2 separate regions of the Homo sapiens genome follow, and region 1 is linked to region 2. The links come from fine-mapping of genetic effects on gene expression. A gene starts in region 2. The other region holds a variant in brackets. All regions are shown on one strand. Distances are between the middles of the regions.

Evidence for each region.
Region 1: its variant is fine-mapped to the expression of TEKT5 in thyroid (GTEx, PIP 0.95). The same link has a PIP of 0.9 or more in blood mononuclear cells.

The regions. Positions count from the first base shown.
Region 1 is chr16:10,730,620-10,736,003 of GRCh38, forward strand. No RefSeq gene overlaps it. Among named protein-coding and RNA genes, the nearest start is that of NUBP1, 11 kb to the right of the region's middle. The variant CACTT/C (reference allele first, on the strand shown) is at 2,589.
Region 2 is chr16:10,692,235-10,697,585 of GRCh38, forward strand. It overlaps TEKT5 (tektin 5), which reads right to left and starts at 2,696. Exons shown (of 7, transcript NM_144674.2): 1 at 2,076-2,696. The coding sequence starts at 2,639. It overlaps LOC105371079 (a long non-coding RNA gene), which reads left to right. Exons shown (of 2, transcript NR_188625.1): 2 at 384-739.

The sequences.
Region 1 (5,384 bases), 38 kb after region 2:
AGGCAGACCAGTATTGGCTGATAAGGAAAGCGTTCATATTAAGTGGCCGGGCACAGTGGCTCACGCCTGTAATCCAGCACTTTGGAAGGCCGACGTGGGTGGATCACTTGAGGCCAGGAGATCGAGACCATCCTGGCTAACACAGTGAAACCCCCGTCTCTACTAAAAAATAGAAAAAATTAGCCTGGCGTGGTGGCTGGCACCTGTAGTCCCCGCTACTCGGGAGGCTGAGGCAGGAGAATGGAGTGAACCTGGGAGGCGGAGCTTGCAGTGGGCCGAGATCGTGCCACTGCACTCCATCCTGGGCGACAAAGCCAGCCTCCATCTCAAAAAAAAAAACAAAAAAAACAGTAAGTCAGACCAGTATTGGCTGATAAGGAAAGATTTTGTATTAGATGGCTGGGCACAGTGGCTCACGCACTTTGGGAGGCTGAGGTGGAAGGATCACTTGAGGCCAAAATGAGACAATATAGTGAGACTCCACCTCTACAAAAAATAAAAAATTTAGCCAGGCATGGTGGCTCACACCTATAGTCCTAACTACTTGGGAGACTGAGGTAGGAGGATCACTTGGGCCCAGGAAGTGGAGGCTGCAAAGGAAGTGGAGGCTACAGTGAGCCATGATCATACCACTGCACTCCAGCCCAGGTGACAAACCAAGACTGTGTCTCAAAAAAAAATAATAAAAGGGTATATTAAGTGAAGAAACCAAGGTATAAAACAGCAAATATAGTGTGATACCACTTAAGCAGATACATATGGAATTGTACACACAAACACTTCTGGGAGGATACACAGGAAACAGTGCCAAAGTGAGAAATCTTTGTGGGCCGGGCAGGTGTGGAGTAGGGGAATGGGGTACAGAAGAAGACTTTTACTTTTCAGTCAAGCCCTTCCATACCATTATTTATATATTTATTCCTCAAAAACATAAAAGCAAACATATATATAACATATGTATGTGTTTAAATATAAATATACATATAACATATATATGTATTTAAATATAAATATACATACATATAACATATATATGTATTTAAATATAAATATACATACATATAACATATATATGTATTTAAATATAAATATACATATATATGTGTATCAATAAAAATCTAATAGATTTCACCTTCTAGACAAGATTGAGTAAACAAGGATTGATCTTACCCTCCTACCTGAAATGACTCCAAAAACACTCAAAAACCATAAAGCAATGGTGTTCCAGACACCGGCCATCAGGTCTTGAAGGATGGTGATCCCCGTGCTGTGGGAAAGAGATGAAGTGTGTCCTATAATTGCCCAGCTGACTGCCTGAGGAAAGTTTCCAGGCGTTGGCACACGAACAGTCCGCCAAAGGGAGTCCATTGACCTTCAAGAGACAGAGCTGGGAAGGAGGAGTGCCGATGTGGCTAGGGTGTGAAGGATGGAGCAGAGGCAGCAGAGGGCCATGCAGAGAATGTCCTGAGATGGGCAGAGGGCTCCCCTAAGTCTTCAGTTGAGCAGGTGCATGCAAGCAAACAACCCCAGGCTGGGGAAAGAACCACCCCGGCCTTAAAGTGAACAATTCCCAGAGCTCATGCAAGGCTGGGTAGTTCCTGATCCCAACAACTGCAATAGAAAATGTCATAATTCATGTAGCATCAAGTCAGATCCCAGAAAGGTTTTACCTCAGTATTAAGGCAAAATGAGCTCTGGACTTATACCACTCTGGTCCCATCTAACAAAACTTTTTTTTTTTAATTTTTCCTTTGAGACAGGGTCTCACTCTGTTGCCCAGGCTGCAGTGCAGTGTCTTGATCTCGGCTCACTGCAACCTCCACCTCCTGGGTTCAAGCAATTCTCCCACGTCAACCTCCCAAGTAGCTGGGATTACAGGCATGTGCCACCACACCTAGCTCATTTTTGTATTTATAGTAGAGACAGGGTTTTCACCATGTTGTCCAGGTTGGTCTCAAACTCCTGGCCTCAAGTGATCCACCCACCTCAGCCTCCCAAAGTGCTGGGATTACAGGTGTGAGCCATGGATTACAGGTGTGAGCCACCGCACCCAGCCCCATCTAGCAAAGCTTAAAAGGAAGTCTCAAAATGATAAAAATGTTTCCAAGTAAATTATCTGTGTCCTAGAAAAAAAAAGATCAAGAATATTTGTAAAAGCACAAACATTTTTAGCACTCTGGCATGCAATTTAAAAAAAAAAAAAAGGCAGTATCCATGCAAAGAGACAAGAAAATATGACCCAAAATGAGGGGAGGAAATCAATCAATTGAAACCAAACCAGAAATAACACAGATAATGGAATTAGTAGATTAGGATATTTTAGGTTATTATAACTGTATTCTATGTGTTCAAGAAACTAGAAAAAAGATTCAGCACATTCAGTCTTAAAAATGAATGATACTTAAAAACAAACAAACAAACAAACAAACAACAACAAAAAAAAAACCTAAGCTGAACTTCTAGAGATGAAAACTATAATGTCTGAGACGCAAAATATTGATCCCATCTTGATGCAAGATGGGATTAAGAACATGTCTTAGCTCAGGCTGCCATAACAAAATAATAGTCTGGGGGGCTTAAACAACAGA[CACTT/C]ACTTTCTCACAGTTCTGGAGGCTGGAAGTCCAAGACCAGGCGCCAGCATGGTTGCGTTCTGGTGAGGACTATCTTCCTGGCTTGCAGACTGGCTTCTTGCTCTGCCCTCACATGGCCTTTTCTTGGTGTGTGCCTATGGAGAGAGAGAAGGCACAATCTCTCTGGTGTCTGTTCTTATAAAAGCACAAAGTTCACTATGAAGACCCCATCCTCATGACCTCATCTAGCTTTAATTACCTCCCAAAGTCCCCATTCCAAATATCATCACATTGGTATTTGGTTTGGGCTTCAACATATGAATCTGGGGGAGGAGGACACAAGCATTCCATTCATAACAATGCAAATTAGACCCTGTAGAAGAAAATATTAGTGAAGTTGAAGACATGGCAATAGAAAGTATCCAAAATAAAACAAAGAGAAAAAAAAAAGACTGAGGAAAAAACTACTAACTGTTGCTGAAAAAAATTTTAAAATAGATAAAATAAAATAGAAATTTAAATAGAAAGATATGTCATACGTGTGGACCAGAAGGCTTCATATTGTTATGATGTCAATTCTTCCTAAATTGATGGACAGACTTAACACAATCCCATTCAAAATCCTAGTAGGCTTTTTTGGTACAAATTAATAAATTAATTGTAATATTTGTATGAAAATGCAAAGACCTAGAATAGCCGAAAACAACTTTGGAAAGAAAAAGTTGGAAGATTTAGGCTCTCTGACTTCAAGCCTTATATATTTTTATTTTTATTTATTTATTTTTTTTTGAGACAGAGTCTTACTCTGTTGCCCAGGCTGTAGTGCAGTGGTATGATCACGGTCAAGTCTTATTATAAAACTACCATATGGTATTGGCATAAAGATAGACAAATAGATCAATGGACAGAATAAAGACTCCAGGCCAGGCGAAGGGGCTCACACTTGTAATCCCAGAACTTCAGGAGGCTGAAGCAGGCTGACTGCTCGAGTCTAGAAGTTCAAGACCAGCCTGGGCAACATAGTGAGACTTTGGCTCAATATATATATGTGTGTATATACATATGCGTATATATGTATGTGTATATATGTGTATATATGAATGTGTATATATATGTGTATATGTGTGTATAGATAGATAGACAGAGAGAGAGAGAGTCCAGAAATGGTCCATTGATTTTTCAATGAAGGTACAAAGTTAATTTTGTGGAGAAAGGCTAGACTTTTCAACCAATGATGTTGGAACAATTGGATATCCAAACAGAAAAAAATGAATTTCAACCCATATTTCACACTACATACCACAATTACCTACAAAAATTTACTCCAAATGGATCAGAGACCTCAATGTAAAGTCTAAAACTATAATATGTCTAGAAGGAAAAACAGGAGAAAATCTTTGTGGCATTGCATTCGGTTAACTCTTTCTTAGATATAATATCAAAAATACAATACATAAAAGAAAAAAATGAACAAATAAAACCTCATCAAAATTAAGAATGGCTCTTCAAAAGACACTTTTAAGAGAATAAAAGGACAAGCTACAGTCTAGGAAAAAACATTTGCCAAACACATTATTGATAAAGGACTTCCAGCTGGGCACAGTGGCTCATGTCTGTAACCCCAGCACTTTGGGAGGCCGAGGCAGGCAGATCACCTGAGGTCAGGAGTTCGAGACCAGCCTGGCCAGCACAGTGAAACCCCATCTCTACTAAAAATACAAACACTAGCCAGGCGTGGTGGCATGCATTTGTGGTCCCAGCTGCTTGGAAGGGCGAGGCAGTCGAGTTGCTTGAACCCAGGAGGCGGAGATTGCAGTGAGCCGAGATCATGCCATTGCACTCCAGCCTGGGCAACAGAGTGAGACTCTGTCTCAAAAAAAAAAAAAAAAAAAAAGACTTCCATCCAGAATATATACATAATATCAAAATTCAATAATAAAACAAATTACCAAATTTTATAAAGTGGACTTGAAGATTTGAATGAACACTCTCAACAAAAAATATGTAATGTCAAGTGAGCACATGAAAAGATGTTCAGGCCGGGCCTGGTGGCTCACAACTGTAACCCAGCACTTTGGGAGGCCGAGGTGGGCAGATCACTTGAGGTCAGGAGTTTGAGACCAGCCTTGCCAACACAGTGAAACCCCATCTCTACTAAAAAACAAAAATTAGCCCGGTGTGGTGGCACATGCCTGTAATCCCAGCTACTCGGGAGGCTGACACATGAGAATCACTTGAACCTGGGGGGCAGAGTTTGCAGTGAGCAGAGATTGGGCCACTGCACTCCAGCCTGGGACAGAGTGAGACTCTGTCTCAAAATAAATAAATAAATAAATAAATAAATAGGAAAAGATGTTTAACACAGTCATTAAAATAATGCAGATTAAAACTACAATAATACAGCAGTATGCATCTATTGAAATATTTAAAATCCAAGGTTGTCTGTAACCTATGCATCTATTGAAATATTTAAAATCCAAGGTTGTCTGTACCCACTGCTGGCAAGAATATGGAGCAGTTAAAAGTCTCATATCCTGCAGGTGAATATGCATAATCACTATGGAAAACAGTTTCGTAGTTTCTTTTTTTTTTTTTTTTTTTGAGACAGAGTCTCGCTCCATTGCCCAGGCTGGAGTGCAGTGGTGCGATCTCGGCTCACTGCAAGCTCAGCCTCCTGGGTTCAAGCGATTCTCCCACCTCAGCCTCCCGAGTAGCTGGGACTACAGGCCACCATGCCCGGCTCATTTTTTGTATTTTTAGTAGATATGGGGGTTTCACTGAGTTAGCCAGGATGGTCTCGATCTCCTGACCTC
Region 2 (5,351 bases):
GGTCTGGGATACTGCTGTAGGGCTCTGAAAAGCTGCCCTGCCCATCATTCTTCCCAGGGAGAATCTGGGGTTGTATAGAATCTGCTCCCTGCATTCCATGGATTTGGACATCCTAGAGTGATAGAAACCTATGCCATGTCTCCCAGGGAGATCCGGAGGCAGGATCTCTCCTACGGAAGCCCCTGTAGCTGCAGGAGGCTTCCAGGCAAGAGGTCCTGAGTTCCCCACACACTCCAGGGAGCAGCCGATCATCTTCCTCTGTGGCCAAAGTCAGTTCCCATAGGTGCTGCTGGTTCCTTACCCAGTGTCCACTCAACCCCTTCCATGATTTTCTCCTGGACGTGGTGAGAAACATTCACTTATCCAGACCCCTTTGCATCCAGGGTCCATGAGAGTGCTGGCTAATAGGCTAAACATGGAGACACACGACGGACCTTCTAGAAAAGACATTCCCTGATAAAAAGCAATGGTGCCCATTGATGCTTCTGCTCTTTGTTCTACCCTTGCCTTCCTGCCTCGAATGAGAATATCAAGAGGCCCCTGGCATGCAGGAACTTGCAGTATAAAATGCAAAACCTCCTTGGGAACAGGAGAACACAAACCACATGCTGTGGGTGGCAGAACAGAGAGAGGAGCCTGGGTCCCTTCTGGCACCAAGTTGAGGCTGGAGCCGCCTGATCTGTCTCCCTCTGGAATTTTCCTCATGACAGAAAAATAAATTCCTGTTTGGCTAAACCACTATCGTGGAGTATTTGTTACATGCGGCTAAAAACTATCCTAACTGAGCAGGGAGACAACTGGAGGCTAGGAGACCAAGGAAGTGTTAGGAATGTCCACATTTAGTTTTTGTTTGTTGTTTGTTTGTTTGTTTTGTTTTTTGAGATGGAGTCTTGCTTTGTGGCACAGGCTGGAGTGCAGTGGCGCAATCTCAGCTCACTGCAACCTCCGCCTCCTGGGTTCAAGAGATTCTTATGCTTCAGCCTCCCAAGTAGCTGGGATTACAGACATGTGCCACCATACCCAGCTAATTTTGTATTTTTAGTAGAAATGGGGTTTCATCATGTTGACCAGGCTGGTCTCAAACTCCTGACCTCAGGTGATCCACCTGCCCTGGCCTCACAAAGTGCTGGGATTACAGGTGTAAGCCACTGTGCCCAGTCACATTTAGATATTTACTCATTTATTCAGCATGTATTTATTGAATGCCTACTCTGTGCTTCGCCCTGTCCTAGGCTGGGAATACATTCAAAACATTAGTGTAAACAATACCAGTCAGCACCGACATTGGTCACTACGGACCCACACAGACATACAGGTGCCCTGCACTGAATAGCAGTCTTGAATACATCAGTGACAAAGCAGGCAAAAATCTCTACCTTGATGGAGACTATACTGTATTCTAATATTCAATCAAGTATAGAGCATGTTAAATGATAAGTATTACGGGGAAAAATAAGGCAGTTATGGGCCAGGCACAGTGGCCCATGCCTGCAATCCCAGCACTCTAGGAGGTCAAGGCGGGAAGATCAGATCGAGACCAGCCTGGCCAACATAGCAAAACCCTGTCTTCACTAAAAATACAAAAATTAGCTGGCCATGGTGGCGGGCACCTGTAATCCCAGCTCCTCAGGAGGCTGAGGCACGAGAGTCGCTTGAACCCAGGAGGCGGAAGTCGCAGCGAGCCAAGATCGAGCCACTGCACTCCAGCTTGGGTGACAGAGGGAGACTCTGTGTAAAAAATAAATAAATAAGTCAGTTATTTTAAGCATGTGCTTTAAGGACCAGAACACACACATGCTCAGGCATGCATAAGTATGCACACAATATTTTCATGAAACCCCTGCAACTTTGATGTAGCTTCAAGGAGAAAAGGAAATTCTATTCAGTCCAAGAAACCCTGATTTGACTGGGATTATCCTGAATTGACTAAGATTGTATTACTGATCGTATTCGATGATGCAGCTCAAACCGACCTGCAAGGTGCCTGCCACCTTCATCTTCAGTCAAGGGAAGCAGAATGAGCGTGCAGTATCCCCAGGACACAGCCACAGCCCTGTCCCCACCCCTGTACTCACCTGCAATGGGCAGTTCACCTCATTGGCCGCGCACTCCAGCCGCCTCTTGACCGTCTCCAAGTTCTGGTTCTCAGTCAGAAGCCTGTCCAGCTCATAGCTCAGCTCTGACTTCCAGAAGCCAATGTCCGACAGCCTCTGGCCCAGGTTCCGGCAGGTGCCCTCCTGCATCTGGTGCGTCAGCTGGTCCTTGTCCTGCAAGAGCCTCATGGAGTCATCCGTCAGCCGGCTGGCCCACAGCCGGGAGGCCTCGGCCCCACGCACCTGCAGCTGGTTGGACTGGTCCCAGTCGTGGGGGCTATAGCGAGAGAAGAGTGCGGAGCGCAGTGTGGGCAGGATGGTGGGCGGCCGCAGGGTACTGGTGCTCTCGTCCGGGCAGGTCTGGACGTTGGCTATCTTGTAGAAGAGGCTAGGCCTCCATGAATTGAGGTAGCGGTACCCGGGCAGGTAGTAGGGCTGATAGCATTCCTGGATCACTGGCGCCTGTACAGCTGGCAGTGAGGTCAAGCCACAGCATTTCTTGGGACCACAGTAACTGGCGGTCTGAGTAGTCCCAAGAAACTCCATCCTCCCTCATGAGCCCCACTCGGGCAAAACTCAGCTCAAGGAGCCAAAGGCATCACCAGGAAAGGTGAAAGTGCTTCTCTTGGGGACTAGCAGAACCTCTATGACTCAGCACTGGTGTCATAAAGCCTGGGGAGAGGGACTCTTAGCGGGGCCTTTGCTCACTTACAGGCCAGCTGCAGCCATATTGTCCAAAACAAAAAGACAAAAACAATAATCAGCAAAGTGAATGTGAGTTTCATAATCCACAGATTCGGTTGCAAGAAGTGACATTTTATCTTCCTATTACAACTGGGCGGGAGGAAAATTAATGTAGTTTACCCAGTGAATTCATCAGCTCAGGGACAATTTGGTCAAAGCGAGTTGTTTTCTTTCTTTCTTTGTCCCCAACATGGCATCAAAATGGTCCATCTGAGGTGAGGCATGGTAGCTCATGCCTGTCATTTCAGCACCTTGGAAGGCTGTGGCCAGAGGATCACTCAAGTACAGGAGTTACTAGTATAGGAGACTAGTATAGGAGACTAGCCTGGGCAACTTATTGAGACCCCATCTCTACAAAAGAATTTTAAAACGAGCTGGGCACAGTGGCTGGCACCTGTGGTCCCAGCTACTCAGGAGGCTGAGGCAGGAGGATGGCTTGAGTCCAGGAGGTGGAGGCTGCAGTGAGCTGTGATCGCACCACTGCACTCCAGCCTGGGTGGCAGAGCAAGACTGTCTCCAATAAAAAAACAAGGTTCATTGGTACCATGGAATACCACTCAGCAATACTACTCAAAACAGCACAAATGAATCTCAAATTTTAAGCTATGTGGAAGCAGCTAGGCTCAAAAGATGACACTGTGTATTAGTCCATGTATATGACATTCTGGAAAAGACAAATCCATACGGACAGAGGACAGATCAGTGGTTGCCAGGGTCTAGAGGTTGGGGGAGAGTTGTTGGCTCCAAAGGAGCACAAGAAAATCGGGAGGGGCGAGACAGTATGTTCTAGATCTTAATTGTGTTGGTTACACATTTAGTGGAAACCTATAGAAGTTTCCACTAAAAAGAGTAAAATTTACTGTACATCAATTATACTTCAATAAACCTGATTTTTAAAAATAGAGGGAGGGATCTTGAGCATCAGGAGGCAGAGACCACGTCTATTTTGCTCACCATTAAATTCCTGGCATCCAGCACACTATTGAATGAGTGAATGAATGGGTATCTAAAACGAGAGCTTTCTTGTTCCAGAAAAGTTATTAACTCTACATTCTATAACAATTTTTTGTTTTCAGAGAGACAGTCTTGCTCTGTTGCCCAGGCTGGAGTGCAGTTGCATGATCGTAGCTCACTGCAGCCTTAAACCCTTGGGCTCAAGTGATCCTCCTGCCTCAGCCTCCCGAGTAACTGGGACTACAGATGGATGTCATCATGCCTGGCTAATTTTTTTTTTTTTTTGTAGAGATGGGGGTCTCACTATGTTGCCCAGCCTGGTCTCAAACTCCTGGCCTCAAGCGATCGTCCCGTCTTGGCCTCCCAAAGTGCTGGGATTACAGGCACGAGCCCCCCACCCCCACCCTACCACCACCACCCAGCCTATAACAATATTTTAATTACACCAAGAAATTTTCCTCCCTCTTTGGCTGGTGAGAGTAGCAACAAAGTGACAAGGTACAGAACAAGAGGAGTGCTTGATTTGTGGGGCTTCTTTCTGCTGTTGAACTGGGAAAGAGATGAATCTAACTCTCAAATGGTCTTTGTTAGTAGAGTATGATGTTCAATAGCAATTTTCCCCCAATCGCCTAAAATCACGAGTGGGTATGAGAGGACCAAGGCAGCAAAAATGAAGATAAATAACATTTAGTAAGCATCTTCAATGTTCTTGTGCTTTACATAGACTCATTTATTTCATTTCCACAGAAAACCTTTAAGGAAGGCATCACACCCACATCTTCTAGCGTGGGATCAGAAAAGCAAGTGGGCCCTGGTCCTCCCGACGTTCACAACCCTTACCTCTCAGGATCTTCTAAGATGGGACGTCACATACAGGAGGGGACTACACACAGAAGGCAGCCAAGAAATGGACGAAAAAGTTTCGAGTATTTTTTTAAGCACTAAATGGTTATGGTAAAATATTATTTTGGAGGAAGTGTAGGGGGAGGCGAGGGGAAAAAAGGTTTTTTGTGTAACATCAACAAGTATAAAGTGAAATTTAGGGTTTCTCATCATCCTTGGCTTCTTGTAGCCTCCTCAGATATAACTAATATTATCAGATTTTTCCAGAGATAATTCATACATATATAGCATATATCTAGATATTGTCATATATAACACACTATGATATTAATAAAATATCTAAAATATTTATAATAATATCAAGTGTTAACACACAGTGTTACCACACTATGATGTTAACAAATATCTATGATATTTATAATATCTAGTGTTAACACAATGTGATATTAGTAAACTAACACAGCTACAAATTCTAGTGTTAACACACTGTGATATTAATAAAATCTCTATATTTATAATATCTAGTGCTAACACATGGTGTTAACACACAATGATATTAATAAAATCTCTATATTTATAATATCTAGTGTTAACACACTATGATATCAATAAAATGTCTATATTTGTGATATCTAGTGTTAACACACTATTAACAAACTATCTATGATATTTATAATATCTAGTGTTTACAGTGTTAACACACTATGATATTAAGAA